7 linked regions of the Homo sapiens genome follow. The protein of the gene in region 7 interacts with the protein of the main gene of each other region in a pairwise test. Each region holds a gene or a part of one and is shown on either strand. Other genes may lie near its edges.

The links.
Region 1: the proteins of FBXL17 (region 7) and PXYLP1 interact in a two-hybrid assay, tested with the Homo sapiens proteins (one large-scale study listed by BioGRID).
Region 2: the proteins of FBXL17 (region 7) and TASP1 interact in a two-hybrid assay, tested with the Homo sapiens proteins (one large-scale study listed by BioGRID).
Region 3: the proteins of FBXL17 (region 7) and RLF interact in a two-hybrid assay, tested with the Homo sapiens proteins (one large-scale study listed by BioGRID).
Region 4: the proteins of FBXL17 (region 7) and PSME4 interact in a two-hybrid assay, tested with the Homo sapiens proteins (one large-scale study listed by BioGRID).
Region 5: the proteins of FBXL17 (region 7) and TPP2 interact in a two-hybrid assay, tested with the Homo sapiens proteins (one large-scale study listed by BioGRID).
Region 6: the proteins of FBXL17 (region 7) and ACSBG2 interact in a two-hybrid assay, tested with the Homo sapiens proteins (one large-scale study listed by BioGRID).

What each region holds. Positions count from the first base shown.
Region 1 is NC_000003.12:141,283,103-141,287,613, forward strand, and holds part of PXYLP1 (2-phosphoxylose phosphatase 1), read left to right. Parts: intron 1-4,211; coding exon 4,212-4,351; intron 4,352-4,511. UniProt on the Homo sapiens protein: Responsible for the 2-O-dephosphorylation of xylose in the glycosaminoglycan-protein linkage region of proteoglycans thereby regulating the amount of mature glycosaminoglycan (GAG) chains.
Region 2 is NC_000020.11:13,390,593-13,395,103, reverse strand, and holds part of TASP1 (threonine aspartase 1 isoform 1 precursor), read left to right. Parts: intron 1-1,226; exon of another isoform or gene 1,227-2,490; intron 2,491-4,511. UniProt on the Homo sapiens protein: Protease responsible for KMT2A/MLL1 processing and activation. It also activates KMT2D/MLL2. Through substrate activation, it controls the expression of HOXA genes, and the expression of key cell cycle regulators including CCNA1, CCNB1, CCNE1 and CDKN2A.
Region 3 is NC_000001.11:40,237,532-40,242,042, forward strand, and holds the end of RLF (zinc finger protein Rlf), read left to right. Parts: coding exon 1-2,916; 3' UTR 2,917-3,390; downstream 3,391-4,511. UniProt on the Homo sapiens protein: May be involved in transcriptional regulation.
Region 4 is NC_000002.12:53,918,284-53,922,794, forward strand, and holds part of PSME4 (proteasome activator complex subunit 4), read right to left. Parts: intron 4,302-4,511; coding exon 4,234-4,301; intron 2,822-4,233; coding exon 2,606-2,821; intron 2,068-2,605; coding exon 1,910-2,067; intron 964-1,909; coding exon 868-963; intron 1-867. UniProt on the Homo sapiens protein: Associated component of the proteasome that specifically recognizes acetylated histones and promotes ATP- and ubiquitin-independent degradation of core histones during spermatogenesis and DNA damage response.
Region 5 is NC_000013.11:102,634,367-102,638,877, forward strand, and holds part of TPP2 (tripeptidyl-peptidase 2), read left to right. Parts: intron 1-1,220; coding exon 1,221-1,336; intron 1,337-1,857; coding exon 1,858-2,026; intron 2,027-2,715; coding exon 2,716-2,873; intron 2,874-3,872; coding exon 3,873-3,949; intron 3,950-4,511. UniProt on the Homo sapiens protein: Cytosolic tripeptidyl-peptidase that releases N-terminal tripeptides from polypeptides and is a component of the proteolytic cascade acting downstream of the 26S proteasome in the ubiquitin-proteasome pathway.
Region 6 is NC_000019.10:6,141,919-6,146,429, forward strand, and holds part of ACSBG2 (long-chain-fatty-acid--CoA ligase ACSBG2), read left to right. Parts: intron 1-4,511. UniProt on the Homo sapiens protein: Catalyzes the conversion of fatty acids such as long chain and very long-chain fatty acids to their active form acyl-CoAs for both synthesis of cellular lipids, and degradation via beta-oxidation.
Region 7 is NC_000005.10:107,858,125-107,861,699, reverse strand, and holds the end of FBXL17 (F-box/LRR-repeat protein 17), read left to right. Parts: 3' UTR 1-2,665; downstream 2,666-3,575. UniProt on the Homo sapiens protein: Substrate-recognition component of the SCF(FBXL17) E3 ubiquitin ligase complex, a key component of a quality control pathway required to ensure functional dimerization of BTB domain-containing proteins (dimerization quality control, DQC).

The sequences.
Region 1 (4,511 bases), on a different chromosome or scaffold from region 7:
ACTACAGGCACGCGCCACCATGCCCAGCTAATTTTTGTATTTTTTTTTTTTTTTATTTTTTAGTAGAGATGGGGTTTCACCATGTTGGCCAGGATGGTCTTGATCTCTTGACCTCATGATCAGCCCACCTCAGCCTCCCAAAGTGCTGGGATTACAGGTGTGAGCCACCCTGCCTGGCCTAGTCTGTATAATTTTGCAGCTCAGGGGCACTGGCTTGCTGGGAAAAAGAGGTTTAGTTGAGAATCTTCAGCATGTTGATGGCATTTGAAGCTGTGGGCTTATATTACAGACAGAACCTGAGGAGTGAGGGATGGGCCAAAACCAGAGTCCTGGGAAGCACCAGCATGTGGTACTCAGAGAGAAAAAGGATTTCAAAAGGGGCCAGGGATGTTGCAAATGGGGAAAAGTCAGGAGAGCAATGTTATGAGAGCTAAGGAAAGCAGGGCAATGCATTACATCAAGTAAGACCAAAAGGTCCAGAAAGCTAAAAACAAAGAAAAGTACACTGGGCTTATCTTTTCATAATCTCATGTTATTAATATGTAAGATGATAAATTCTTTAATTGGCATGAACTTTAAAAATCTAATGTGATTCCAGTTTCCAGCTATGTATGCTCTTTTGGATTGTGTTTTCTGGTAACAGTGTCACTGGTCGTCTGCCTCTTCTGCTTGCCTTAACATTCTGTGCAGAACTCAGTCATTGCTGAGATTTTAAATAAACAATAAATGTTCTCATGGGTGTGTGGATTAGCCTTGGGGTTCAGCCTCAAACTTTGTGGCATAAATAGATGTGAATAATGCATATAAAAGTGAAGATAAGGACTCCAAAGTGAATGACTTGAAGGCTTAAGATAGTAACACTTTTGATTATTTCAGTTTTCATTATGAAAGCAGATTTTCAATGAGCCCACAATAATATGAGTTTTTCCTAAAGAAAAATTTATTTTCATGGATATAATTATGTCTGCATTAGTCAGGGTACACCTATTTTGTAAGTTTATTTTGTAGCACAGGGACTCATGAATGCATTACCTTAAATAACAAGGAAGTTTAGCTCTTCCTCATGTGAAGGTCTGAAATGTGTGTTCCAGATTGTGCTAGTCAGCTCCACCTGGTCATTCAGGGCCCCAGGTTTCTTCCAGGTTGTTGTTTCTACCATCCCCTGGGGATGGCTACATGGTTGAACCCTGGTTGCTGCCATGCCTAAATAATGGCTGGAAGGAAGGAAGATAATGTGAACCGGGCATACACATGATCAGAAAGCCTGAACCCAGAAGTGGCATACATCTTTCCGTTCTGTTGGCGAATGCGGCTTTACCTCATTTCAGGACCTCAGAAATAGGATCTAACCAAGTTCTTAAGAAGAGAATAGATTTTAGTGTACGACTAGTACACTAGTCTCATCCACACTAGCCTTTAGTTTTAATACAGTCATCCATAGAGGATTGGTTCCAGGATCCTCCTTGGATACCAGAATCTGAGATGCTCAAGTCCCTTATGTAAAATGGTGTTGTATTTACACAGAACCTGCGCACATTCTCCCATGTACTTTACATCATCTCTAGATTACTTATAACGCCAAACACAATGTAAATGCTGTGTAAATAGTTGTTATTTGTATTATTTTTATTGTTGTATTGTTATTTCTTATTGGGTTTTTTCCAAGTATTTTTGGATCCACAGTTGAATCTTCCAATGCAGAATCTGAAGAGATGGAGGGCCGACTATATTTTCATCAAAATCTGAATATTTTAACAAACCGTATGGGAACTTATCGTATTCATTTCTACAGATTATGGAAGGCTTGCTATTTTCATGAAACATCCAAGGATGGGACACTTCACAGTTGAATTCACTCACATATATTTTTAGAGCATCTGCTATGTGCTAAGCACCCTCTGGGCTCCAGGGATGGAGCAGTGGACCAGGCAGACAAGGCCTGGGTAGTCAGATCCAGGTCCAGGACTCGAGTTACCTGGTCTGCTTTCCACTAAAAAGATACAGCCATTTGTTGTCAAATGTTTTTTTTCTTTTTCTTTTTCTTTTTTTTTTTTTTTTTTTTGAGACAGGGTATCTCTTTGTCACCCAGGCTAGAGTACAGTAGTACAATCACAGCTCACTGCAGCCTCGACCTCCTGGACTCATGTGATCCTCCTGCTTTAGCCTCCTGAGTGGCTGAGACTATAGGCCTGCGCCACCATGCCTGGCTAGTTTTTGTATTTTTTGTAGAGACATGGTCTCACTATGTTGGCCAGTCTCAAACTCCTGGCCCCAAGCAGTCCTCCCACCTCGGCCTCCCAAAATGCTGGGATTACAGGCATGAGCCACCATGCCCGGCCTGTTAGCTATTCTTTAAATGAAGTTTTTCTTCCACAAATCTTCATCTTTGCATGCCAAAAACAAACAACACAACAACAACAACAAAAAAAAACAAAAATAAAAAACATTGGAATGAATGCAGTTAGATATCATTAAGCAGTCAGATGCCCTGAAAACCTGGGTCACCTCAGCAAACACTTCCAGTCATGAAATTCCATTTCTAAAATTGGCAGCAAAGCTTTCTCAGATCCTCAAAAAAAGCTCCAACCTGAAATAATGGCCTGGTGCAGAACATTTGACTCCTGTTGATGGATAGCCTTTGTTTATGTGGATTACTCTTGGCAGCCTCATTGTCAGTCTGGACATTTTATTTCCCAGTTTGCAAACATTTATGTGCTTTAGCCTCAGGCAAAATAACGTACCCTGTTTTTGTGGAAAGGCATAACTCCCTTTAGCTATCCAGGGTGATTTATTAGACTATATTACATGTCTGGATTAGTATTCTCTAATTTAAAAACGTATTTTTAAAAGATGGATTTTTTTTTTAGCTTTATGTTGTTGATAGATAATAAACCCATTTTGGCAGCCATTTTTAAAGCACTTTCAAAGTTAACTGGGCCTTCAGACAGCAGGGGTTTGCCATTAGAACAGTTTATCTTTGCTTCTTTTCATGCTGATTCTTATAGAGTTTAGGCATGAACTACTCTATCTGTCCACTTCTCTTCAGCTGGAAAATGTATATACATTCATAGGCTACTTCATTATTCAAAGAAAAGATGTTTATATTCATAGGTCATTTCATTATTCAGGGTAATTGTATATTAGTGACTAGAAAGATTTACCACATATACTTTGTGGCAGAAATATAGATACTCTCAGATCTCATATATAAACTTTTTTTGACATTTATTATTACCCTATATTAAATGAGAGGTTGTATGTCCAAAACGTGGAGTGGATTGTAAAGAGGTATAGAGATCCTGGTTATCTTATTCAGTTAACAATTTTCCTAAAGGGGGATTTTTCAGAGGTCAGAAAAATTAAGGATTATGGGTGACCTTGATAAAGGATAGGGTAGATTTTCTAGGAGGAAGGGATAGCTCGTGGGAAGTGGTGGAAGTGTTGAAGAATGAGGTGCGTTGTGTGTTGGAGGAAAGAAGGCCTTTGGCTTGGCGTGGCCAGAGCACAGTATTAGGGTAGAGAGGGCCAGTGAGTACCAGGGCGAGGCCAGAATAGAGGGACAGGCTGTGTGTGGCCCCTTCCAGAAGGTGGTGATAGGGAAGGGCAGTGACTGGTCAGAGTTACCTTTTAAATCAATCCTTCTGGTGGTGGAGAAGGCAAGATTATTAGAGGGGCATGCTTAATCAGCAAGAAGACCAATAAAGAGCCCATTGCCAGCCAGACAAAAGCTGCCTGAGGCCAGAACCTAGGTAGTAGCTGTGAGGATGAAGGAGAAGGGGATGGAGAAGCACCAGGAGAAAGAATCTGCAAGACATGGGGAGCAGACAGCATGTGCAGGGGCAGGGAATGGAGAGAGTGGGACGATGCCCAGCCTAGGCGTGACTGCTGGGTGGGTGTTGGCGGCCTCCCGGAGAGCGAGCCCGGAAGGCAGCACAGGTTGGGGAGCCGGAAGATAGACGGCGAAGCTGAATCCCACAGTACTGAGTTCAGCAGAGGTTAGGAACTCTGGCCAACCTCACAGAGGGGATTTCATGTGTCAGTGTCAGTGGTCGAGAAATAATGAAATTGGAACTGAAAAGTGATTGAGCCGGTACCTGTTACTGTGGGTGCAAAAGGCTGCGATACACGTGGGATTTGGCTCGCTGAAGCTGGAAACTGTTTGGATTCTTGTGGAGCACTCTGACCTCTAACTCTCTCTATCATCTCTCTAGGAAACCGTATCACCCAAAACTGGAAGCTTTCATTAGTCACATGTCAAAAGGATCCGGAGCCTCTTTCGAAAGCCCCTTGAACTCCTTGCCTCTTTACCCAAATCACCCATTGTGTGAGATGGGAGAGCTCACACAGACAGGTATGTGTGACCCCCATGCGCTCAGGGGTTCCCCCACCCGCTCTTCTGCTTGCATACCTTCCGAGCAGTTCTCCTGGGCGGGGTGCTGTGCAGCTCAGAGGGGGTAAGCAAGGACTGGCTCTGCAAGGAGCTCGGTCACCAGGGCCTCTAAATAAACATC
Region 2 (4,511 bases), on a different chromosome or scaffold from region 7:
GTGCAGTTTTCCTAGAAACCATACAAGAGCAGTTTCTAAGGTGGTCTTGGAAGATCTTAACATTGAGTATGAATGACAGGAAATTTTAGCTACTACTTAGATTGTGATTAGGTTATCAGGCAATTATATACTTTCTATATTACTTTTCTCTTAATTTTCTTATTTTAAAATCTTCGAGCTAAATTTGTTAATCCATTGTATTTGGTTTTATAAAAAGATATAGCCCTAATATTGGCTTTGAACAGTCAGTTTAATTTATAAGTTGATAGTTTTTCAAGGGGTGTTAACCTCAAGAATCTGTCTGTGCTTCTTAGGGAATTAGCAAGAAAGCGGCAAATTATAACTACACGGCCAGTGGATCCCATTGGTGTGGAGCTGTTTGCATCTGAGAATCTAAAGCTCCATCTCTATTCTAACAGTGCCATCAACTGGAAAGTGGAAAATTTTAGTTAGTCTATACTTTAAAAAAAAAACAAAGTTTCTTTTTTTTTTGAGATAGAGTCTCGCTCTGTCGCCCAGGCTGGAATGCAGTGGCGCGATCTTGGCTTACTGCAAGCTCCGCCTCCAGGGTTCACACCATTCTCCAGCCTCAGCCTCCCGAATAGCTGGGACTACAGGTGCCTGCCACCACGTCCGGCTAATTTTTTTTGTATTTTTAGTAGAGACGGGGTTTCACCATGTTAGCCAGGATGGTCTCAAACTCCTGACCTCGTGATCCGCCCGCCTTGGCCTCCCAAAGTGCTGGGATTACAGGCGTGAGCTACCGCACCAGGCCTTTTTTTTTTTTTTTTTTTTTGAGAGGGAGTGCTGTAGTGCAGTGGCACGAGGTTGGCTCACTGCACTGGAGTGCAGTGGAGTGCAGTGAGAGGTTGGCTCACTGCAACCTCTGCCTCCTGGGTTCAAGCGATTCTCCTGCCTCAGCCTCCGGAGTAGCTGGGATTACAGGCATGCACCACCACACCCAGCTAATTTTTTTTGTATTTTTAGTAGAGGTGGGGTTTCGCCCTGTTGGCCAGGCTGGTCTCGAACTCCTGACCTCGGGGGATCCGCCTGCCTCAGCCTCCCAAAGTGCTAGGATTACAGGCGTGAGCCACCACGCCCGTCCAAAAAAATCTAAGATTAATCTTTACTATGGCAAACTAGTATGATTCACTTTTCAGCCAAACAGATTGGTCATATCAGTTAAAACACTTAAAATTCTTTTCCCCCCCACACCTTTTTTTTTTTGGCTGAGCGCAGGGGACTTTATTCATGGTATACAACAGGGTGGGGCTCCCTAGGCCCCTCCCTCTTCAGGGTGTCTGCATGGACATTGTGAGGAGGGGAGATTCTCAGTGTGGTAGGGGACTGAGTGTGGGCAGGGACTCCCAGCAGCTGAGGGCCTCTCTCTTCCTTTCATGCTGTCGCTGGGGCTGGTGGTCCAGGGGTCTTATTCCTTGGAGGCCATGTGGGCCATGAGGTCCACCACCATATTGCTGTAGCCAAATTCGTTGTCACACCAGGAAATGAGCTTGACAAGGTGGTTGTTGAGGGCATTGCCAGCCCCAGCATGGAAGATGGAAGAGTGGGTATCACTGTTGGAGGAGACAATCTGGTGCTCAGTGTAGTCCAGGATGCCCTTGAGGGGGCCCTCTGACACCTGCTTCACCACCTTCTTGATATCATCATATTTGGCAGGTTTCTCCAGACGGTAGGTCAGGTCCATAACTGACACATTGGCAATGGGGACATGGAAGGCCATGCCATTGAGCTTCCTGTTCAGCTCGGGGATGACCTTGCCCACAGCCTTGGCAGTGCCAGTAGATGCAGGGATGATGTTCTGGAGAGCCACACAGCCCTCATGCCACAGTTTCCCGGAGGGGCCATCCACAGTCTTCTGGGTGGCAGTGATAGCGTGGACTGTGGTCATGAATCCTTCCATGATACCAAAGTTGTCATAGATGGCTTTGGCCAGGGGTGCTAAGCAGTTGGTGGTACAGGAGGCATTGCTGACGATCTTGAGACTGTTGTCATACTTCTCATGGTTCATGCCTATATAAACATGGGGGCCTCAGCAGAGGCAGCAGAGATGATGACCCTTTTGGCTCCCTGCTGCAAGTGAGCTCCAGCCTTCTCCATGGTCGTGAAGATACTGGTGGGCTCCATAATGTACTCAGCACCAGCATGGCCCCATTTGATTTTGGTGGGATCTCACTCCTGAAAGATGCTGATGGGATTTCCATTGATGACAAGCTTCCCATTCTCAGCCTTGATGGTGCCATGGGATTTGCCATGGGTGGAATCATATGGGAACATGTAGACTATGTAGTTGAGGTCAAGGAAGGGGTCACTGATGGTGAGAACATCTGCTTTACCAGAGTTAAAAGCAGCCCTGGTGACCAGCGCCCGATACTGCCAAATCTTTTTACTTTGGCCTTCACCTTCACCAGGGATGTGGCTAGCACTGCATGAGAAGATGCGGCTGTCTCTTGAATGGCAGGAGCAGGGTGCCTTAAGATTCTGCATGTTTACATAAACATAGCCCTAGAATGGTCTATTTCAGTCATTTACCCACTCAGCATTTCCGGAGTAGTATGCTTCTGTGTGAAACACATGGTCAGGTACAGGGAAACTGAGATGTATGTAACAAAGCTTCTGCCCAAAACCGACTTTCAATTACAGAAACCTAAAGATTCAAAACCAAGACTGGATGAGAAATGCTCATATGGGTGCTATAGGAGCTAAAAGAAGAACTTCTAAGTTGAGTTGGGTGCCTGGTCAAGGCTTCCCTTGAGAAAAAGCCAGAGACATGGTATCACAGAGAGATGTATGAGCAGGGCATGTAGCAAGGAGTGGAGGGAGATGACCCAAAATAGATGTCTGCTGCTTTTTCATGTATCATTTTAATGTGTTATTTCCCATTAGTTCCAAATTCCAATAAAAATGCATTGCTATTTAAATATTGTAAAGGTACTTTGTTAAGTTCTTCTGCTTGTAGGATACTCTAGAGTCTACACAGTCCTTGGACACTTGCTCAGTGTAAAACAGTTTATTGCATTTTTTATGCTGACATCCAAGTTTGTTGCAGAAAGTGGTCTGTTTTTAGGCTAAAGAGAAATTTAAGCTCACTTCTTTCTTTCTTTTTTTTTTTTTTTTTGAGACGGAGTCTCGCTCTGTCGCCCAGGCTCGAGTGCAGTGGCGTGATCTCGGCTCACTTCAAGCTCCACCTCCCAGGTTCATGCCATTCTCCTGCCTCAGCCTCCCAAGTAGCTGGGACTACAGGCGCCTGCCACCACGCCTGGCTAATTTTTTTGCATTTTTAGTAGAGACAGGGTTTCACCATGTTGGCCAGGATGGTCTCTATCTCCTGACCTCGTGATCTGCCCGCCTCGGCCTCCCAAAGTGCTGGGATTACAAGCGTGAGCCACCACGCCCGGCCTAAGCTCACTTCTTTCAAAAAGAACTCTGGAGATAAGCTCATATAAAACATTTTCTTAAACGGCTCCCACTGTTTATATGATTTGATGCCCCATTGAGATCTCCACAGGAAGCTTCAAACACATCTTGGCTCACACTTTTTCAGACCAAGGTTCTTGTCTTCTGATGAGACTCACCATGTTTCAGTACTTAGGAAAAGCTCGTTTAGAGAACAAGTAGAGAGGATTGCGTGAAGTTTATGCAGCCCCTCTTTCTTCTTAGAAATTCCAGACATTTATCTATCCTTGGATTAAGCCAGATCACCAAAAAGAGGAATTCTTGGCTGACCTCATCCTGACCCCTCATGAAACAGAGTGAAGTGCTTACTGTCTTCTACCGGAGCCTCCAGCCCCAGCCTCCTCTGAGTGATGTTGTAACACTCAGCCCTACAAAACTCCCTGTTGTATAGCTGATGTCTTCACTCAGTCACTAAACACAGTGCCCTCTTTACAAAGACTATAGGAGAAATGGCTCCTTGGTCTCAGTGCCAGGAACAATTGTTCTCATCCAAGCAGTGGGTTTGCTGTGATCTTTATGCTACATGAACCACCTACCTGATCTCTGCTGCTAGGAAACTGAGAGACAGGGCAGCAGGCTTGCCTCTGGCACGGGTACCAAACTCCTCAGCTTAGATTTCTTCGTTGGCCCCACTTCCGTCTTTACCTTATTTTGTAAGCTCTTATTTTTCTTCTCATTTCCTCTCCTACTTTAGGCTATTGAATTATCTGAGTTTTTGTAAGCTACTGAAATTCTTTAAGGAATAAATTTGGGATATAAACATGAATTAAGTATCCTTAGTTACTCTGTTTAGAAGACAAAACATATACAAATTACTAGTTTTCACATAATGACTATACTCAATAGAGCTGGCATTAAAACTGCTACTCTTGTGAATATAATTAAACTATACATTCTGTGCGGTCAGGGGTCTTGGCTAACTTGGTCACCTCTGTATCTCAAGTTGCTAGTGCTGTGCTTGGCATGTAGCAGATGCTCAGTAAATATTTCCTGAGCGATTTGAACAAACGATCTTTCAGTAACTAAAGTTTACCAGT
Region 3 (4,511 bases), on a different chromosome or scaffold from region 7:
AGTATGGCAGTTTGTTTTGACGGGACTAAGTTTACCTGTGGTTTTGATGGCTGTGGTTCCACATACAAAAATGCAAGAGGAATGCAGAAACATTTACGGAAGGTTCATCCATACCATTTCAAGCCCAAAAAGATAAAGACGAAAGATCTGTTTCCCTCTTTGGGTAATGAACATAATCAGACAACTGAAAAGTTGGATGCAGAACCTAAACCCTGCTCAGATACAAACAGTGACTCCCCAGATGAAGGTCTAGATCACAATATTCACATTAAATGTAAACGAGAACATCAAGGTTATTCCTCAGAATCCTCCATTTGTGCTTCTAAAAGGCCCTGTACAGAGGATACCATGTTGGAACTTCTGTTACGCTTGAAACATTTAAGCTTGAAAAACTCAATAACACATGGATCTTTCTCAGGGTCATTGCAGGGGTACCCATCCAGTGGTGCTAAGTCTCTTCAGTCAGTTTCATCTATCTCAGACCTTAATTTTCAGAATCAAGATGAAAACATGCCAAGTCAGTACCTTGCACAGTTGGCGGCTAAGCCGTTTTTCTGTGAGCTTCAAGGATGCAAATATGAATTTGTGACCAGAGAGGCTCTGTTAATGCATTATCTTAAAAAGCATAATTATTCAAAAGAAAAAGTCCTTCAGTTAACCATGTTCCAACATCGGTATTCCCCATTTCAGTGTCATATTTGCCAAAGGTCATTTACAAGAAAAACACACCTTAGGATTCATTATAAAAATAAACATCAAATTGGCAGTGACAGAGCAACTCACAAACTATTAGATAATGAAAAGTGTGATCATGAAGGCCCATGTTCAGTAGATAGGTTGAAAGGTGATTGTTCTGCAGAACTTGGAGGTGATCCCAGTAGTAACTCTGAGAAACCACACTGTCATCCTAAAAAGGATGAATGTAGTTCTGAAACAGATTTGGAATCATCTTGTGAAGAAACAGAAAGTAAAACATCTGACATTTCATCACCAATAGGCAGCCATAGAGAAGAACAAGAAGGAAGAGAGGGCAGAGGTAGCAGGCGAACTGTTGCTAAAGGAAATCTGTGTTATATTTTGAATAAATACCACAAACCATTCCATTGTATTCATAAAACTTGCAACTCCTCATTCACCAATCTAAAAGGCTTAATTCGCCATTACAGAACTGTACATCAGTACAACAAAGAACAGTTATGTTTGGAGAAAGACAAAGCAAGAACCAAAAGGGAACTTGTCAAATGTAAAAAGATATTTGCTTGCAAATATAAGGAATGTAATAAACGCTTCCTGTGTTCCAAAGCTCTTGCTAAGCACTGTAGTGATTCTCATAACCTAGACCATATTGAAGAGCCTAAAGTACTTTCCGAAGCTGGATCTGCAGCAAGGTTTTCTTGTAACCAGCCTCAGTGCCCTGCTGTTTTTTATACATTCAACAAGTTGAAGCACCACTTGATGGAACAGCATAATATTGAAGGGGAAATACATTCAGATTATGAAATTCATTGTGATCTTAATGGCTGTGGCCAGATTTTCACCCATCGCAGTAATTACTCACAACATGTATATTACCGACATAAAGACTATTATGATGATTTGTTTAGAAGCCAGAAAGTAGCAAATGAGAGACTACTAAGGAGTGAAAAGGTATGTCAAACAGCTGATACTCAGGGGCATGAACATCAGACCACCAGGAGATCATTTAATGCTAAGTCTAAAAAATGTGGCTTAATCAAAGAAAAGAAAGCCCCAATAAGTTTTAAAACCAGAGCTGAGGCCCTCCATATGTGTGTGGAGCACTCTGAGCACACACAGTACCCCTGCATGGTTCAAGGATGCTTATCTGTGGTGAAGTTGGAGAGCAGCATTGTGAGGCATTACAAACGCACTCATCAGATGAGTAGTGCCTATTTAGAGCAACAGATGGAGAATCTTGTTGTTTGCGTTAAGTACGGTACCAAAATTAAGGAGGAACCCCCTTCTGAAGCAGATCCCTGTATAAAGAAAGAAGAAAATAGAAGCTGTGAATCAGAGCGCACAGAACACAGCCATTCCCCGGGTGACAGTAGTGCACCCATCCAGAACACTGATTGCTGTCATTCAAGTGAAAGGGATGGAGGTCAGAAAGGGTGCATAGAAAGCAGCTCAGTATTTGATGCAGATACTCTGCTCTACAGGGGAACTTTGAAATGTAATCATAGTTCCAAAACCACTTCCCTAGAACAGTGTAATATAGTTCAGCCTCCTCCTCCTTGTAAAATAGAAAATTCCATACCTAATCCCAATGGGACTGAAAGTGGGACTTATTTCACAAGTTTCCAGCTGCCTTTACCAAGGATCAAAGAATCAGAAACTAGGCAGCATAGTTCAGGGCAAGAAAACACTGTAAAAAATCCAACCCATGTCCCAAAAGAGAATTTTAGGAAACATTCACAGCCCCGGTCATTTGATTTGAAGACTTACAAACCTATGGGATTTGAATCTTCATTTCTGAAATTTATTCAGGAAAGTGAAGAGAAAGAAGATGATTTTGATGATTGGGAGCCTTCAGAGCACTTAACATTAAGTAATTCTTCACAGTCCAGTAATGATTTAACAGGGAATGTTGTGGCAAATAATATGGTGAATGACAGTGAACCTGAAGTTGACATACCTCATTCTTCCAGTGACTCTACAATTCATGAGAACCTGACTGCAATCCCACCTTTAATAGTAGCTGAAACAACAACAGTTCCTTCCTTGGAAAACCTGAGGGTTGTATTGGACAAAGCATTAACAGACTGTGGAGAGCTTGCCTTAAAACAGCTTCATTATCTTCGGCCAGTGGTGGTTCTTGAAAGATCTAAGTTTTCCACACCAATTTTAGACTTATTTCCAACAAAAAAGACAGATGAGCTTTGTGTAGGAAGTTCATAAGTAGCAATTTTGTTTTAGTAACAGACTGGCTCCAACACTGCAACATGGGGACATTTGCCAACTCGAACAAAGGCTGAGAAGCAGCCACACCGTTGTTTAGGGTAGAATAGGCTGTGTATTTACATGAATGTATAATATCTATGTCAGCAGTATTGGCTGAGTCCATTAGCTCTCCAGTTGGTTTAATGATTGGGTTTATTTTTGTTTGTTTGTTTATTAAAAAAATGGAACTGTACACTTGTTTGGTGCTAATTAATACATCAAAATATACTGGGGCTTCCTTTTTCAAATTAAGTGTGCATGATTGTATATGGAACAAATACTAAGGTCCCAGGGTGGGAGGGCTAGGGAAAGGGATATGGAGTTCTTACTTGACTTGAATGTGCACCTGAGGGTGCTTTGTGTAATATATTGTACACTACAGCATCTTATATTTTTTGAGTTGAGTTTCAATAAATTACAATTTTTCACCCATTCGTTGTTTACTCATAATGAGCTTTCATGCCACATGTAAACTGAAATTGCACTTGTATTTTCTGAAATATGCCATTCACATTTTACCCCAGTAATTTTTTTATTTATTATTAGCTAAATCATTCAGAACAAGGTTCTTTTTTTTTTTTTTTTTTTTAAGACAGAGTTTCGTTCTTGTTGCCCAAGCTGGAGTGCAATGGTGCAGTCTCGACTCACTGCAACCTCCTCCTCCCAGGTTCAAGTTATTCTCCTGCCCCGGCCTCCCAAAGTGCTGGGATTACAGGCATGAGCCACCGTGCCCATCCCAGAACAAGGTTCTTTTTATCTTAAAATTTTTGTTTTTGTGGAAAGATAATTCTGAGATTAATTAGCTGCGGGAGTCAAGATAGCTCCCAGAGGATGTCCAGATGTTGGCCGAGTAGAAAGGAGAGGATATGCCAACCTAGAACATGAAGGACGTAGCAAATTCAGAGGGCATGTTTCTAGGAAACTACAAATAATTTGATATGCTGGCAATAAAAGGGGAACAAGAGAGTGACATCATTGTAGAGATAGCAGGAACTAAATCATGAAGACTAAGGAGTTTGGATTTGAGTCTATAGGCATATATCAGTTGAAGTGTGGAGTGCTCACTTGATTTGAGAAGCTGAAATTGGAAACAGTATACTTGAAGTAATTGAGGCAAGCTTGGTGAGTGTATTTACTGACAATTGCAGCAGAAGGCAGAGTAGATGAAGTATTTAAGGAGACAGGATTTTGGGGGCTTGGAGAGTGAAGGAAAAGATTTGGTACTGATGCAACCATTTTAAGTAGGTATACAAAGAAGGAATGAATATTTGGGAAGATAATGGAAACCAAGGTGAGTTTGGCTTTTAGATGTGTTGAGTTTCATTGGACTGTGGGATGTCTGTCTAATGAGGATAGCAGTATATCCTTTTAATACAGCAGCTTCATTTCCTGTTGCTTGTGAAGTTTTCAACTACTTTCATTAGCTAGTAATGAAGTGACTCAGACAACTAACATCTCTTTCTCATCCTTGTGGTTAGATTTTTTTTTTTTTTCAACGGAGTCTTGCTTTGTCGCTCAGGCTGGAGTGCAGTGGCGCGATCTCGACTCACTGC
Region 4 (4,511 bases), on a different chromosome or scaffold from region 7:
ATTTAAATTATTATCTATCTGTTTAATAATTAAGCTAAAATTAATATATACTGCTGATTTTATTCTTTTTGTTTTTTAAAATGTTTTTGAGACAGGGTCTCACTCTATTGCCCAGGCTAGAGTGCAGCAGCATGATCTCAGCTCCCTGCAACCTCTGCCTCCTGGGCTCAAGCAATCCTCCCACCTCAGCTGGGACTACAGGTATGCGCCACCACGTCCAGCTCATTTTTGTATTTTTTTGTAGAGACGGGTTTGCCATGTCATCCAGGCTGATCTCAAACTCCTGCACTCAAAAGATCCGCCTGCCTCATAAGCCACCGCACTGGGCCTCTGCTGATTTTATTCTAACTTAATTTTTTTTCACCTTAAATGGCGGAGCTAACAACGGATTCAATTTAGCTATTCACTCGAAGTAATAATACTCTGAAAAGCACTTAAAAAATCATAAAACCAATTCAAAATCATAATGAATAAGATTGAAGAAATCTTTTTTTTTAAAGTTTTTTGCTACAAAATTCTGAATCAACATTTGCTACAGTCAAAACAAAGCAGTATTTTTCCTTTTTAAAAGAACAGCATTTATCTTAATTAACTCAGTAAACTAAGAGACTAACTTAATATCTCCACATTTGATATTTTAAAATTAATACCTAAAGTTATTCTATCCTGGTACCATGTGAAAATCTGAATAAAGCCTTCAGGTTTATAAATCTAAATTGTACCTCTGGTATTTTTGACCTTAACAGTGACAAATAAAAAGGTTAAAGTGATACAGAAATAAAAGCAATAACAACAACAAACCAATAACTCATTAAGTGACTAAGACTTAAAATATATGTTAAGTGGAAAACAGTTATTTTTACTTACAAGTTAGTAACTGGCTCTCCTTTCAACGGAGGTAGGAGGTTTCCAGAGCCAATTAAACAGTTGTGCACTATAGTCAGACTCTGTAGAATATCATCTCTAGAAAAAAAAAAAAGACATTTTCATATTTCCAAATCCCTATTTAATAAGCCTGCTAGAGCCTAGCACAGAAGTTTTCTCACGTGGGGATATAAATGATTAAGGTAAAGAAATAGCAAATGTCTTCAGTTTACCAACTTAACAGTGAAGAACAATTAAATATATATTTATTGCTAACACTATGCCTGCTTACATTTAAACAGGCTCTAAGTAAATCACAAGTAACAATAATTAACTGCCCTTTGTGAAACAACTGTTAATTTAAGCATCCCTTTACCAAAGACCACTGCCACTAACAAAAAGAGGAAATAATGCTACAGAAGATCTTCCAGCTTATTCCATCTTTTAAAAATGGGACTAAACATTTACTTCCAAAAAGCAGTTCAGAGTACGACAGAGTTGATGTTAGTCAGTCACACTTCTTTCTCCAAGTGCATTCTTAAATCTGCTTATGAAAAATTTGTGGTGTTTGATACATTAATTTTCTTGCTATTATTTTAGAAACTTTCAAACTATGAAAGTCTAATGGTTTCAAATACTTATTTCTTGTTAAATACCTGTGGGAGAGGGAAAAAAAAATCTCATAAAAATAATTCTTAAAATAAAATTTTGAGAACCCAATAAAATCTTAGCTGAGTCTAGGAAAACAGGCATTCCTTTCAAAGGAGGCATATCTACACACACCTTCCAAAAGACAAGTGAAATTGCTAAGTAGAAGGTAATAAAAAAAATTAGAAAAAGAAACCCACAATTTTTGGGTTTAAAATGTTTAAATGTTGTTAAATTTTCTGTTATACAACATTATATTAAATGATTTTCTAAGTACATGTATAGCAGATTTTCAAAACACAATTGAAAATTAATACATGAGATATGCCACAGATAAAGCCAAAAAAGACTTCTTTAGTCTGCAACTGAATAACTCTAATTATAAAATAAAACCAACCTAGACATTTCAAGTTTTCCATCCCCACAATGCTGGAGTTTGACGAGCTCAGGCTGAAGAAAGGAGTCCAAAAGATAAAAGGCAAAAGACACTTCTTCTGAAGAAGGAACATGCCACTGGATTCCCAGATTCCACAAGTCCCCGGGTTTGCCCCAGTCCTAGAAGAGAACAGCATCTACTCAGCAAGTTGAGAAATTAAAAACAACAACAACAAACCCACATACATATACACAATTTTTAAAATTTAAAAGAAAATGTACACATAATCCAAACCTAAGGTAGCAAATGATATACAAAAAAGTAGCATGAAAACAACATCTTACTGCCTCTTCGTTATCACTCCTGAAAAAAGTCTCCCCGAAGAGTACTCATTATAATATGAGTTTGCTCTAAGAGTGATACTGTAAGAGTGATGATGAGTTTAAGTGAGGCTTAGTTTAGCAATAAAATTATATTGAACTATAGACATTAGATAAGGAATATATACGAAGTTGTTTCACATATCAATAGGAAAGAAAACTAGAGTTTCAGTTCCATGCAAAGTGAGACAGCACAAGTTTCACATATTCCAATAATAGTTTCAATAATCTATCTTAAAAGTAAAAAACTAACATATGCAAGAAAAAATAACACTTTGAATCCCTTAAAACAAAAAATCAACATATTCTTGAATCCTAAAGTACTGAAAATGCTTGCCTTGATAGGAAAGTATTCAGAAGGAGGCTTGTCAAAGCCACCTGGCACACTGCAGTATTCTGTAGGGTAGATAAGTGTGGTAGAACGGAGAAGATGATGCAAAAGGTTACAAGACAGAGTGTAACCCTGCTTACAGGTTAAATGTAGGGTTCTTTGGAGAATCTTTACAAGCTGCTCCCTATAAAGAAGCAACTTCCTTCCATCCACTCGAGTAATCTAAAAGGAGGGAAAAAATAGTTGAAGATATTTTGGTTAAAAGAACAAGAACCAATCATTAATGCAAAGTTCAATGTTTGGCCACTAACCTAGTGTTTCTCTAAATGACTTTAATTAATTTTAGGATTGTCACTTTAACTGCATTCTAATAATTAATTGTTTTTTGAAATCAAACACATTTTCTGAGCTTAAGCTTTCATGCACCATAGTAACATCCCTTTCAAAAGAGTCTATTCTATTCAAGCAATTCTCCTGCCTCAGCCTCCCAAGTAGCTGGAATTACAGGTACACGCCACCATGCCCAGATAATTTTTGTATTTTTAGTAGAGACAAGGTTTCACCATGTTGGCCAGGATGGTCTCTAACTCCTGACCTAGTGATCCGCCCGCCTCGGCCTCCCAAAGTGCTGGGATTACAGGTGTGAGCCACCACGCCTGGCCCTAATTAAACTTCTGAAAAAAATGATAAAGAAAACTGAAGTTGGCCGGGCGCGGTGGCTCACGCCTGTAATCCCAGCACTTTGGGAGGCCGAGGCGGGCGGATCACGAGGTCAGGAGATCGAGACCATCCCGGCTAAAACGGTGAAACCCCGTCTCTACTAAAAATACAAAAAATTAGCCGGGCGTAGTGGCGGGCGCCTGTAGTCCCAGCTACTTGGGAGGCTGAGGCAGGAGAATGGCGTGAACCCGGGAGGCGGAGCTTGCAGTGAGCCGAGATCGTGCCACTGCACTCCAGCCTGGGCGACAGAGCGAGACTCCGTCTCAAAAAAAAGAAAACTGAAGTTTGGGCCAGGCGCGGTGGCTCACACCTGTAACCCCAGCACTTTGGGAGGCTGAGGCAGGCGGATCACGAGGTCAGGACATTGAGACCATTCTGGCTAACACAGTGAAACCCCGTCTCTACTAAAAATACAAAAAATTAGCCGGGCGTGGTGGCGGATGCCTGTAGTCCCAGCTACTTGGGAGGCTGAGGCAGGAGAATGGCGTGAAGCTGGGAGGCGGAGTTTGCAGTGAGCCGAGATTGCACCACTGCACTCCAGCGTGGGCGATAGTGAGACAAAAAGAAGAAAAAAGAAAAGAAAAGAAAAGAAAAGAAAACTGAAGTTTGATTGATGGCCAAATTTAAAGTGTAGACCAAAAAAATTCCCAAATCTGATCAACTTTTTCAATTAATGAGTTACCCATATTAGAATTAACTGGTAAAACTAAGTAGATGGCTGAACATGCAGTGATCAACTACACCACTCCTTTGACAATAAGAGTATGACATATTCTGATCTTCTGAAGCCTCATCAAATTTCCAAAACTCTGACTTTTCATATGTTTTAAAGTCATTTTGTCAGAAAGAGCTAAATCCTAAAAGCAAGTCAGTGTTTTCACAGTCATGTTTCTTATTCCAAAGATTTACAATACCTCAGACAAAAGTTGAAGATTCCATAGTAATTCCTTGTCTAGCTCTTCATCATTTAATACATCATCATCTAAAAACAGCAAAATACTATTAGGGGGAAAAACCTATGCATTCAACTAAATATAGCATTTTAAAATACTTCTATTTAATATTTCCAATAGCTGAGGAAAACCTCTTTTAGGAAGACTTTTTATTTCTTCTTCATGAAGCTGAGCTTGTTCCAAAAGGAGGTAGAAACAGAATTTTCAAGAAAATAAACACACCAACCAAGACTTCTGCC
Region 5 (4,511 bases), on a different chromosome or scaffold from region 7:
TGGAGGTTACATCATTATATATATTATAGTTGGGATAAACAGACTCTGAACAAAATAAAAAACTGTAGATGTTGCATGTTAGAGGTTAATGGATGCCGTGAGCAAAATGAGGTAGAAAGAGAAGGAGGGATTTCTAGAGTGGTGCACAGGATTAAATAGAGTGGCACTGGGCTTAGCCAGGACTCAGATTTAGGGTAGCCAGGCTGCTGTGAAGCTCCCTCCTCAGAAACGTCCCTCTTTAAGTTGTCTCTCCTCTGCCTCCTTTCTTCCCCGCTTTTCTCACCCACACCACAGTTTCTTCTGCTCACCACATCTCCTCAGCATGGCCTGTCCACACTGGTGCTATCAGCATAAGCCTGTGATGATGTACCACTTCAAGTGCTACATCCTTCTCTAGGTTGAGCCCACACTCTTAGGATGGATCCTAACATGACCCTCTTTCTAGTTCTCTTCAGCCTCACCAGGTATTTCAAGGCCTCTTGGCCTCCATCTTTGGGTGTACTGCACTCTGCCTCGAAGTCCTGTCTGCCATGTTGTGGCCTTGCAGACTCCTGTACATTCTCTAAGAGGCGGCTTATCTGTCAGTTCCTCTGATGTCTGACAATATCATCAATGTTTATGTGTTTAATGAGCTCTGGAGAGGACAAGAATGATACAGCACTCATCTTATGAATTGGTGGCCTCCATATTCTTCCCATAAAACAGTAATTCCCAACCTGGCTGTACCCTAGAATCATCTGAGAGTTGTTTAATAAATAACAATCTCTGGGACAGTCCTCAGAGATTCTGATTTAATTGGTCTGTCATGAGACCTCAGCATCTTTTTTGCTTGAGTTCCCCTGGGGTTTATAACATACAGTTGGGTTGAACACCACAGCCAACAGCCATCTTGTTTAACCCAGCAGTGTTTGAAAGAAAATGTCATTCACATGCTTTTAGATATCTGCTTTGTACGTTTATATTACGCCACAAAGCCCACACCAGTCTCTCTGCCCACCACATAATGAGAACACAGTGATTTTTGTGGAATGAAGCCTTCATGTAATGCAAGCAGTTTGAGTCAGACTGTTTAGTTCAGGTCTTCAAAAAAGATTTTAAAATGAGTGTTAGAACACAAGACATTAACACCAGAGGGTCTACAGGTGATCGATCATACTGGTGGGCGGCTAAGGTTTCAGATAGTGAGTGCTACACTACTTGTTTTTGTTTCTTAATTTTAGGTCTGAAAGCTAATAACATTGACTACACAGTTCATTCAGTCAGAAGAGCTCTAGAAAACACTGCAGTGAAGGCTGACAATATAGAAGTATTTGCTCAAGGACATGGTATTATTCAGGTATTGTTGCCTATATGAAAAATGGGTTGTAAAGCATCATTGAGATAATATCTTAGATATTATTGGGTAATATTTTGTTTTATAACAGTGATTCAGTATATCTGAATTATGGATTATATGGCCATAGAACTACAAGCAAAAAGGATACACAAACAAATTTTGTAGTTAAGACAAATCTGTTGCACTAAGATCAAGAAATGTAATAGATGGAGGCCATGTAGAGGTTAGAAATTCAAAGAAATCGAGGTCAAAAACTGGCCAATCATAACGGCATAGGGATTAGTTCCTAAATTTGGTCACTTGAGAATAACAGTGTGAATAGAGTGGAGTGGAAGATGTGACTGGTGTTGTTTCTAAAAATGTAGAATTGTCCTCTTAGTTGGGGTACTAGGTAGTTTTGAGAGGTGAATATAGACACTAACTTTTTGTTTTACAACTGAAATCAAATTGATTGGTAATTTGCAACAAAATATTTTTTGACCCAACCATTTATATCTTACCATGTATATTATTTTCACTAGGTTGATAAAGCCTATGACTACCTCGTTCAGAATACATCATTTGCTAATAAATTAGGTTTTACTGTTACTGTTGGAAATAACCGTGGCATCTACCTCCGAGATCCTGTTCAGGTGGCTGCACCTTCAGATCATGGCGTTGGCATTGAACCTGTATTTCCGGAGAACACAGGTCAGTAATAGGCTGGCAGTAAGCTGACGTATTCACATTTGCTGTTTGAATGAGTGGTATCATAATAAAGAATTGCTGTTTGGGCCAGTGTTGTGAAGAGAATACATGAATTGACAGTATGATTATTTTAAATCTTAGTCATAAGAGAAAATATTAGAGCAATTTGGGGTCCTTGTACAATGGCAATTTAGTTAGCATCTTAAACTACCAGGGAAAACAGTAGAATGAGCCTCAGTGACCCACAGCTTTATTAAATTGTGGATAATAAAATATCAAATTTCTTTTCCACTTTACCTACTTAGGTATAAGACAGAGCTTTCTGTTGAAGAATGAAAAGTAGAAGCAGTCTAGGAGAACTGCAGCTCGATTAGGTGTGAACAAAAATAATCATCGCTATTATCTGGCTGTCTTCATTTCAGTTGAATACTATGACCTGTGTGCAGTAATGAAAACATTCACTTAAACTCTTTATTTTAAGGTCATACCAGTGCTTGGTGAAAGTATAAATGAATCATGAGTAATCTAAATTGTAAGGAAGATTATTTGACTGTTTTATTTAAGCTGTGTTTTGGATGCATTTTACAGCCAACCAAACCAAGTCGCTAAATTTTTTTGGAAAGATGTAACATTTTTAAATGGAAAAAAGGAAAAAAATACTCATCTTTAATTTTTGGTCTTTTTCGTGCCAGAAAACTCTGAAAAAATATCCCTTCAGCTTCATTTAGCTCTGACTTCAAATTCATCTTGGGTTCAGTGTCCCAGCCATTTGGAACTCATGAATCAATGTAGACACATAAACATACGTGTGGATCCCAGGGGCTTAAGAGAAGGATTGCATTATACAGAGGTATTGATGTATCTTCATTTTTACTTTCTTCACTCTTTAAAATGTTTAAAAGGTTAAAAAAAAATCCAAAGTATATTTGCAATATATTGCTTTCTTGCTAAGAAATAACTAGACCTATCCATCTGCCAGGTTATTCAGTTCTTCTGGTGTGTCTATATTCATTTAAGCAGTGAGTTTCTAAAGAATCATATTTTGTCCTTGTATGAATAAGTAAAAGGAAAGAAGAGGTACAGCAGAACCTTTCAATTAGATCTCCCTCTAACTGGTGTTTTCTTTTGTCAGCTAAACAAAGCTGCAGTTGCTTGTTGTTGTTGTTGTTGTTGTTTTAAGAGACAGAGTCTTGCTCTGTTGCCCAGGCTGGAGTACAGTGGTGTGATCGTGGTTCGCTGCAGCCTTGAACTCTTGGGCTCAAGTGATATTCACACCTTAGCCTCCTGAGTAGCTAGGACTAGTGGCGTGCACCACCAAGCCTGGCTAAATTTTTTTATTTTTGTAGAGACAGGATCTCTCTATGTTGCCCAGTCTTGTCTTGAACTCTTGGCCTCAAGTGATCCTCCTGCCTTGGCCTCCCAGGGCTTTGGGATTACAGGTGTGAACCACCACACCCAGCCAGTTATACCTTTTAGTACTCAGATGAAGAAAGCATCTGTTAAACAAATAGTTGTAAACCAGGCATAGAATAGTATCACAACAGTATCTCCACATCTAAAGTTGTCTGTAGTACTAGTTTGAGCTAATTTTTCAGTTGGGAGTAATTAAAATGCACTTATTTTGTACCTGACGTCTCATTTTCCCATTTCAACTGGTCAAATGTTGCTATACATTTGTTTGGGCTGTTTGCTATTAATTATGTGACCTAGTGTCAGGAAATTGGTGTCAACCTCTGGTTAAGACCTTGATTAAAAGTAGATTGATTTATTCTGTCAGTAGTTTAGACCTTCCCCCGCTCTTTTAAACATTTGTTTATGGATATTGACACTTACCGATTCTTTTTTCAAGGTATGTGGCTATGATATAGCATCCCCTAACGCAGGTCCGCTCTTCAGAGTTCCGATCACTGCAGTTATAGCAGCAAAGTAAGTAACAGGTTACTCACAGCTTACTGGTACATCTAAGATTTTAATGACTATTCATGGAGTCTTGTGGACTTTTAATGATCACTAATACAGAACCAGGTAATGGGGATTTTGTCTTAGTTCTGCTCCCAGCTAGCATTTTTAGGTGTCATGTAGTCAGCCATACTGACTCTTGTGTGCTCTGAGAGTAACTGATGGCACCTGGCATCTGCCCTACCTCTGCATCAAAACTATTTCCACCACAGTCACTCTGAGCTCTGCATTGCCCAGTTCAGAGGATAACTCAGGCTTCGTCTGACCCGATCCCACTGTAGTATTTGACAATATTACTTCACTCCCCTCCATTCCTGCCCTTTTTGTCTCTGTCGTTTTTGGGATTTACTCTCTTCTCTTAATGCTTCCACTTTTCTAGTTATCTACTGTAGAAGCAGAAGTTAAGAAACTCTTAACTTCCCATCTTATTCCTCTGGAACCAAGGAAAAATCAGCAGATTATATTACTTCCTGCTTAAAGTATATCAGTGGCACCTCCAAAGGTCAAGTTCAAGCTCCTTAAAATAGCA
Region 6 (4,511 bases), on a different chromosome or scaffold from region 7:
CAGGGTTTCGCTATGTTCCCCAGGCTGGTCTTGAACTCCTGGGCTCTAGCAATCCTCCCACCTTGGCCTCCCAAAGTGCTGGAATTACAGGTGTGGGCCACCGTGCCCAGCCTAGGGCCTATTTTCTATTCTTGATAGGTTGTTGAGGTAGCAGGGCAAGTTGTTCACATAATTCAGAGCTCTGCTCTACTGGTGATGTGACACTGGGCAAGTCACTTGCTCTTTGGAGGCCTCATTTGCATATCTGAATGATGGGGGCATTGATAACAGCACCTCCCTGTCAGGTTGGTGAGCCCGAGTGGATAAAGTACCCAGGAATCATCCATGTAGATAGGGTGCGGATATGATCATAGTGATTTATTAACATTAGGCTATAATCATTTTACTGTCAGAGCTAAAGTCAAGGGACATGGTGACATCATAGACAGCTCTGATACCAGTGGGTTGGGGGAGGTCCCCAAACGCCGGTGGGACCTCGAACCCAGCCATTATCCAGGCTCTTGACACCATCGAGAGTGAATTCAAGAAACAAGTCAGAAAATAGTGAAAGTGGGCCGGGTGCGGTGGCTCACACCCGTAATCCCAGCACTGTGGGAGGCCGAGACAGGCGGATCACGAGGTCAGGAGATCGAGACCATCCTGACTAAGATGGTGAAACCCCGTCTCTACTAAAAAATACAAAAAATTAGCCAGGTGTGGTGGCGGGTGCCTATAGTCCCAGCTATTCAGGAGGCTGAGGCAGGAGAATGGCGTGAACCCGGGAGGTAGAGCTTGCAGTGAGCCGAGATCATGCCACTGCACTCCAGCCTGGGTGACAGAGCGAGACTCTGTCTCAAAAAAAAAAAAAAAATAGTGAAAGTACTGAGGTTTATGGCAAATAAAAGTACTTGCATTGCAAAGTACACATTCAAGGAGAGGGAGTGCAGGCGTGCTTGAAAGATAGCATCACACACAAAGGAGTTTGGGGATGCTACCTTTATGGGTCCAAAGGGTGGAATATTCATCTAAATCCCTAGAAAACTGGCCGGGCACAGTTCACATCTGTAGTTTCAGCACTTTGGGAAGCTGAGGCGGGCAGATTGCTTGAGGCCAGGAATTCAAGACCAGCCTGGCCAACATGACAAAACCCTGTCTCTCTTAAAACTACAAAAATTAGCCAGGTGTGGTGGCACATGCCTGGATTATAGTGAGTCTCAACTTATTGCAACCTCTGCCTCCCAGGCTCAAGCGATTCTCATGCCTCGGCCACCCAAACAGCTGGCATTACAGTCATGCACCACCGTGCCTGGCTAATTTTTTTTTTTTAACAAAGCGCCCCAAAGTGGGTGTCTGAAACAGCAGAAATGTATTGTCTCACAATTCTGGAGGCCAGATTACTGAGATGAAGGTGTGGGTAGTGAGGTTGCAGTGAGCCAAGATCACACCACTGCATTCCAGCCTGGGCAACAGAGTGAGACTCTGTCTCAAAAAAACAAAAACAAAAACAAAAACAAAAACAAACACCAGTCATTGGATTTAGGGATCACCCTAAATCCAAGATGATGCCATGATGTCATCTCAAGATCCTTCACTAAATCCACCTACAAAAACCCTGTTTCCAAATACGGTCACAGTCTGAAATTCTGGGTGGACATGAATTTTGGAGGTTCACCATGTAACCCACTACAGTCATTAAAATATCCCACAAGTGTCCAGGTGACACCTCCATGTTTTTGTCCAATTTAAAGCATCTCCACTCCCCCCTGCTTCAGGCTGGGGTCAGGAAGGCATGATAAGGTGCTCTTTGAGTTCCTAGATGCTCTTCTCCTCATCACCCCCATCTCCCCAGGTGGTTTCTTTGTGAGCTGGTGCTGACTCCCAGAGCTGATTAGCTCGGGAAAGTGGGGTTGAAGGGGGCCTGTATGAACTAGGCTTCCCTTGTTGTAAGTTGTTATGAGATTAATTGTGCATCTCCAATTCCTTTGTGGAAGTCCTAACCCCCAGGTGCTCAGAATGTAACCTTGTTTGGGAATAGGATCATTGAAGTAATTTGGTTTTTTTGTTGTTGTTTGGTTTTGTTGTTGTTTTTTTGTTAGTTAGTTTGTTTGTTTGGTTTTTGAGATGGAGTCTCGCTCTGTTGCCCAGGCTGGAGTGCAGTGGTGCGATCTTGGCTCACTGCAATCTCCACCTCCCGGGTTCAAGCGATTCTCCTGCCTCAGCCTCCAGAGTAGCTGGGACAACAGGCGCGTGCCACCACGCCTGGCTAATTTTTGTATTTTTAGTAGATACAGGGTTTCGCCATGTTAGCGAGGATGGTCTCGAACTTCTGATTTGAAGTGATCCACCTGCCTCGGCCTCCCAAAGTGCTGGAATTACAGGCACAAGCCACTGCACCCAGCCTACTGAAGTAATTAGTTAAAATGACGTCATGAGGTTAGGTCCCAATCCAATGTGACCAGTGTCTTTATAAAAGGAGGAAATAGAGACGAACCTGCACACACGGAGAATGTCATGTGAGGATCGAAGCAGAGTTTGCAGTGATGCACCTACAAGCCAAGGAATGTCAAGGATTGCCGGCAACCGCAGCTAGGAGAAAGTCATTGGTCAGATTCTCTCCCACAGCCTCAGAAGGAACCAGTGCTGCCTGCACCTTGATCTCAGACTTGTGGCCTCCAGAATTGTGAGACAATACATTTCTGTTGTTTCAGACACCCGGTCTGGGGCACTTTGTTATTGCAGTCCTAGCTAATTAATATATCAGTCATACCAGTGTCTGTTTTTTTTGTTGTTTTTTTCTTTTTCTTTTTTTTTCTTTGAGACAGAGTCTCACTCTGTCACCCAGGCTGGAGTGCAGTGGCACAATCTTGGCTCACTGCAACCTCTGCCTCCCGGGTTCAAGTGATTCTCCTGCCTCAGCCTCCTGAGTAGCTGGAATTACAGGTGCCCTCCAACCACGCCTGACTAAATTTTGTATTTTTAATAGAGACGAGGTTTCACTATGTTGGCCAGGCTGGTCTCGAACTCCTGACCTCAAGTGATCTGCCGGCGTCGGCCTCCCAAAAGTGTTGGGATTACAGGCATGAACCAGCCTGCTGTCTGTTGATGACTATCTGAACATACATCTCCAGTCCTTGGGTCCTACTACTGGCACCAAGCCAAGAGCCTTTAGAAGCCCATCTATGAGGCCCATGTCTAGTCAAGGGGAAAAAGTAGCATCCCGGCCGGGCGCGGTGGCTCATGCCTGTAATCCCAGCACTTTGGGAAGCCGAGGCAGGCGGATCACAAGGTGAGGAGATCGAGACCATCTTAGCCAACATGGTGAAACTCATCTCTACTAAAAATACAAAAATTAGCTGGGTGTGGTGGTGCCCACCTGTAATCCCCGCTACTTGAGAGGCTGAGGCAGGGGAATCACATGATCCCAGGAGGTGGAGGTTGCGGTGAGCTCGCATGATCCCAGGAGGCGGAGGCTGCAGTGAACTGAGATTGTGCCACTGCACTCCAGCCTGGAGATAGAGCAAGACTCCATCTCAAAAAAAAAAAAAAAAAGTAGCATCCCATCATAGGTGGATGTGCAATTTCCTTCCAACACAGCTGCCTACTCTACCATTGCCATCTACCACCTCCCCAGTAGACCAGGTTCAGTTGAACAAACGCAAGGTTACACACCCAATTCTCCAAGAGGGTCTCTTGGACTTTCTCTCACTTGCCCGTTACTGGGTGGTAGTGAGAAACACACAACAAACCAACAACTGTCTCCAGAGGAAACCCTGTTCTCTTCTTTCTCAGTGTCAACCCTTACTCATCCCCAAAAGAAGTGATAGATACAGGACCCCAAAACTGGTTTTGAATTGGTCCCTTTGCTAGTTCCATTTGGCTGATCTGGGTGATGTCGCTGTGACAGGCAACCCCCTCAACAACCCCCTCAACAACCTCAATGGCTTAACACAACACAAGTGTGTTTCTTACTCATGTTGTGTGTCTGGCATTGGGGGAGAGGGGCTACTTCTTCACATTTGCTCCACCATTTTTGTGACAGGACAATGGACGATGGGGAATTATGCACCGGGTCTTAAATCTTCTCCCCATGAACGACACACATAACTCACTTCTTATGTTTCATTGGCCAAAGCATACATAGTCCACTGCATGTACATTTTACCTTTAAAAAAATCTCCGTAAATAATATTAAATATGTGACTCTTGTTAATGATTTACATGCAAGGGTGTTTAAGGGTAAATGGATGAATAGCTTTGGCTCACTTGGAAATGCATCAAAAAATCAGATGGAGCCAGGCGCGGTGGCTCATGCCTGTAATCCCGGCACTTTGGGAGGCCGAGGCAGGTGGATCACTTGACGTCAGGAGTTCGAGACCAGCCTGGGCTACATGGTGAAACCCCATCTCTACTAAAAATACAAAAATTAGCCAGATGTGGTGGCGGGTGCCTGTAATCCCAGCTACTCGGCAGGTTGAGGCAGAAGAATCGCTTGAACCTGGGAGGTGTAGGTCGGGGTGAGCCAAGATCACGCC
Region 7 (3,575 bases):
CACTGGGATCATTCAGCAGAGCAGAGGAGAATTGTACATTTGGGGAGCTGATCTCTCGGAAGGGTTTTAACTGTCACCTGTCTGTGTGTGTTCAAGTATGTGTATTTGTGTCTTGTTTGCATACTGCATACCAAAAGTGCAGTTGTCATTTGTTCCCAAGTGAGCTGGCTTTTTTTCTTAGAAATTAAAGATTATGAAAGCCACAAACTTTTTAGTTTTTAACTTCAAAGGCTTCTTTCTCTTTAAAAAAAAATTATTTTTAATATAGAGTCAAAAAATTGGATGTATTATTTTGAGCTTCTAATTGCTGCCACTTGGAGATGTCCAAGTAAGAAGGCCTTCTTTTTACATGGGATGAATTGTGCACTTCTACTGATGATGACTACAGCAGAAGTGATGTTATACGTACAGGCACTTACACTCTCTCACATATTCACACGTGTGCACATCTACACCAGGGCTCTGATCTACTCTAGATCGTTTCCTGACAGAGAAGCCTTCTTCCAGGCCACTAAGGTAGCATGTTATCCACTGTGGCACTGCCTAACTCCGTGTATCCTCGGGTGGCCAACTTGCTATCTGGTGGGTGACTTGGGGACTAGAAAGAATAAAGCCTTTTCTAAATTTGTTATATAGAGGCAACAGTCTGAACTCTCCTGGCCAGCTCACGAAAGTTAATTATACATTATTCTACAAATGCATTCTGTTGAGCACTAAATATTTTAGTTGGTTTTATGTTAACATTGTGTTAGCTTTTATTTCCTGGATAGTAACTGGTCAGGATATATTTTAATGATATTTGAAACTAATCTTAGCATTGAAGCCACCAATGTAATTAATGGTGTGCAGTTATTTTAAAAACTACAGATCATTTCATTATTTTCTTAATTTTGGTAATTATTAAAGTCTATTTCTGAGATACGAGAGGGTAGTCACATTAATAGAAGATTCATGAGTGAGATATAAGTAGACAATCTTTCTACTGTTGTTGCTCTTTTTGCTTTGCTTTGGGTTCTTGAACAGGTTTTTTGGATATATGCATGTTGTCATTTTGGACTAGTTCTCATGCTACTGCAAAGATCTATTGCTAGCTAATATATGAGTTAAGAAAGAAAATTAGAAAATCTGTTCATTGAAATTCTGTTTACACTTGTCAGAAATAAGCATTTCTTTGTTTAATTAAGGATTGCCAGCTTCAGTTAAGACAAGACCTATCAGTAAATGAATATATGTTTTGATTTAACACATCTTTACAATTAATTCATAATAGGGACTCAGGCTCAAATAACTGTTCCTGTGTCTAGATTTATAATGAGGACATCAGGGAGCCTTTTTAAGCTAAAGAGTGATTATCTTTCACAGTAGAACTAGAAACAAAACCCTAACTTGTGAAGTTGCTATTTATTTTTCCCTGAGTGAATATAACTGTTATTTGGTCTTTAACAGATATACTGAGGTTTGAGTTTCACTTTCTTTAAGTCTCACATTGCTAACATGACATTAGCTGTAAGAAACAAGATAGCTTTACATTTGAATGCCATTTACTGATTTCTAATGATTCTCTTTTTTTGTAAACAACTGTTTCCTTTGATTATGTCAACATGTTTCTGATGTGGCATTTTTGTTTTAATCCCAATCGGTTAGGAAAATCTAGTCAGTAAGCGCCATGAGTATTCTTCCCATAACTAAATGGGTTTCTAATTTAATTTGAAGGGAATAAAATTTGTGTAAGAAAAAAGCTGTTTAACATTAATAAACTATATTTCTTCTTACACATTGAACTGTATCATTTTCATATCCACTTCCCCACCACTGAAATATCTTATTTCACAATATTTTAACTGATTTTTAATCCAAAACTAATTTATAAGACAGTATGTATAGTAATAGTAGCTTGAGTGAATATGCAAAAGTTTAATTTTTATATATGTCATACTATATTTTAAATAGTTAAAAAAGACAAAAGAAGGGAGAGCCATCTATGATATAGATGGTACCATTTCAGTTCAAAGTTGTAATAACCTTTGGAGTGTTACAGTTTGGTTGTCAAATGGTTTCAGAATGTATAATTGATTTTTTTAAATGTTGCATTGTTTGAATCTAAAGTACAGCACTATAACATGCTTTAGCTTGGGGGGGTGGGGGTGGGGTGGGGACTTGCACTTATTCTCTAAAATGTTGACTAATCCAGAAAGCCTGATGCAACATAATCTGGAAAACTGCTTTGGTACATTTGTAGAAATCCGTAGAAATACCATATCCAGCCTCAAAGCATTAATCTCAAAAAAAAAAAAAAAAAAAAAAAAAAACAGCCAGAAAAAAGCATCACCTTGAGTGGTCCTGTGATGGTTGTTGAATGTGTTCTCATTAGATGCTTTGAAATGAGGCTTAAAATAATTTTTCTGGGCAATATAGAGTTTCTTTTTTTTGCTTAGAATGTCATAAATACATGTGAACACGTTTAATGCAGGGCTTTTTATTCTCTCCAAAATGTCAACAGTATTTTCAGAATAAAGACTATGAAATATATTGCTGTAGTGGAAAATTCTGGTCCTTTGTCTTTAATGTCTTTTTGAGTGGATAAAGAAAATTCACCCGGTTTGTAGTTTCTATATTTCCGTGAATCTTTGACCTTGCAGTGGGTTGCAATAAAAGAGAAACAAAACACTGTGTCTTTTGTTTTATTTTAGAGACAATAAATGACCTCCCCAATGCTGGTTGGGTATGATGCATGCAGTGGTCTGTGTATTTCTGTGTTTCACTACAGACTTATGTAGGTTTGACTAACCCAGAATAATAAACGAGACTGAGTTTAGGAGGTTCTAATTGGGCTGGTGATTATAGAGATAAGATTAAAATCTCAAGGATTTACATAAGTGTGTATTAGTCCATTCTCATGCTGCTAAAAGGGTATACCTGAGACTGGGTAATTTATAAAGGAAAGAGGTTTAATCGACTCACAGAAAACTTAAAATCGTGGCAGAAGGGAAAGCAAACAAGTCCTTTTTCACAAGGTGGCAGGAGAGTGAAGAATGAGAACCAAGCAAAGGGAGAAGCCCCTTGTAAAACCATCAGATATCATGAGAACTTCCTCACTATCACAAGAATGGCATGGGGGAAACCACCCCCATGATTCCATTGCCTCCCACTGGGTCCCTCCCACGACACGTGGGGATTATGGGAACTGCAGTTGAAGATGAGATTTGGATGAGGACACAGCCAAACCGTATCAAATGAGTTGTTAAAATCCCATTTCCTAAATAGTCATCATTTATATAGCCATATATTCTATTTTTCCAAAGTAAATAAATTCATAAAACATTTATTGAGTGACAAATACGTATAGGCACTGGAAATTTAAAGATAAATGAACTCACTCCCACTCTCAAGTTACTCACAGCCTAACAAGGGGACATTGTGGGGCACTAGCAATAACAGTGGAGTACAATAGATATAATGATGGGCATAATTATGGGGAGCGCATCTAGGGCCGAGCAGCAGCTTTGGGAAGGGAGAGCTCCACAGAGGAGGAGGATTTTCATGAAGGCTAGAGAAGTAGCGGGAATTTACCAGCT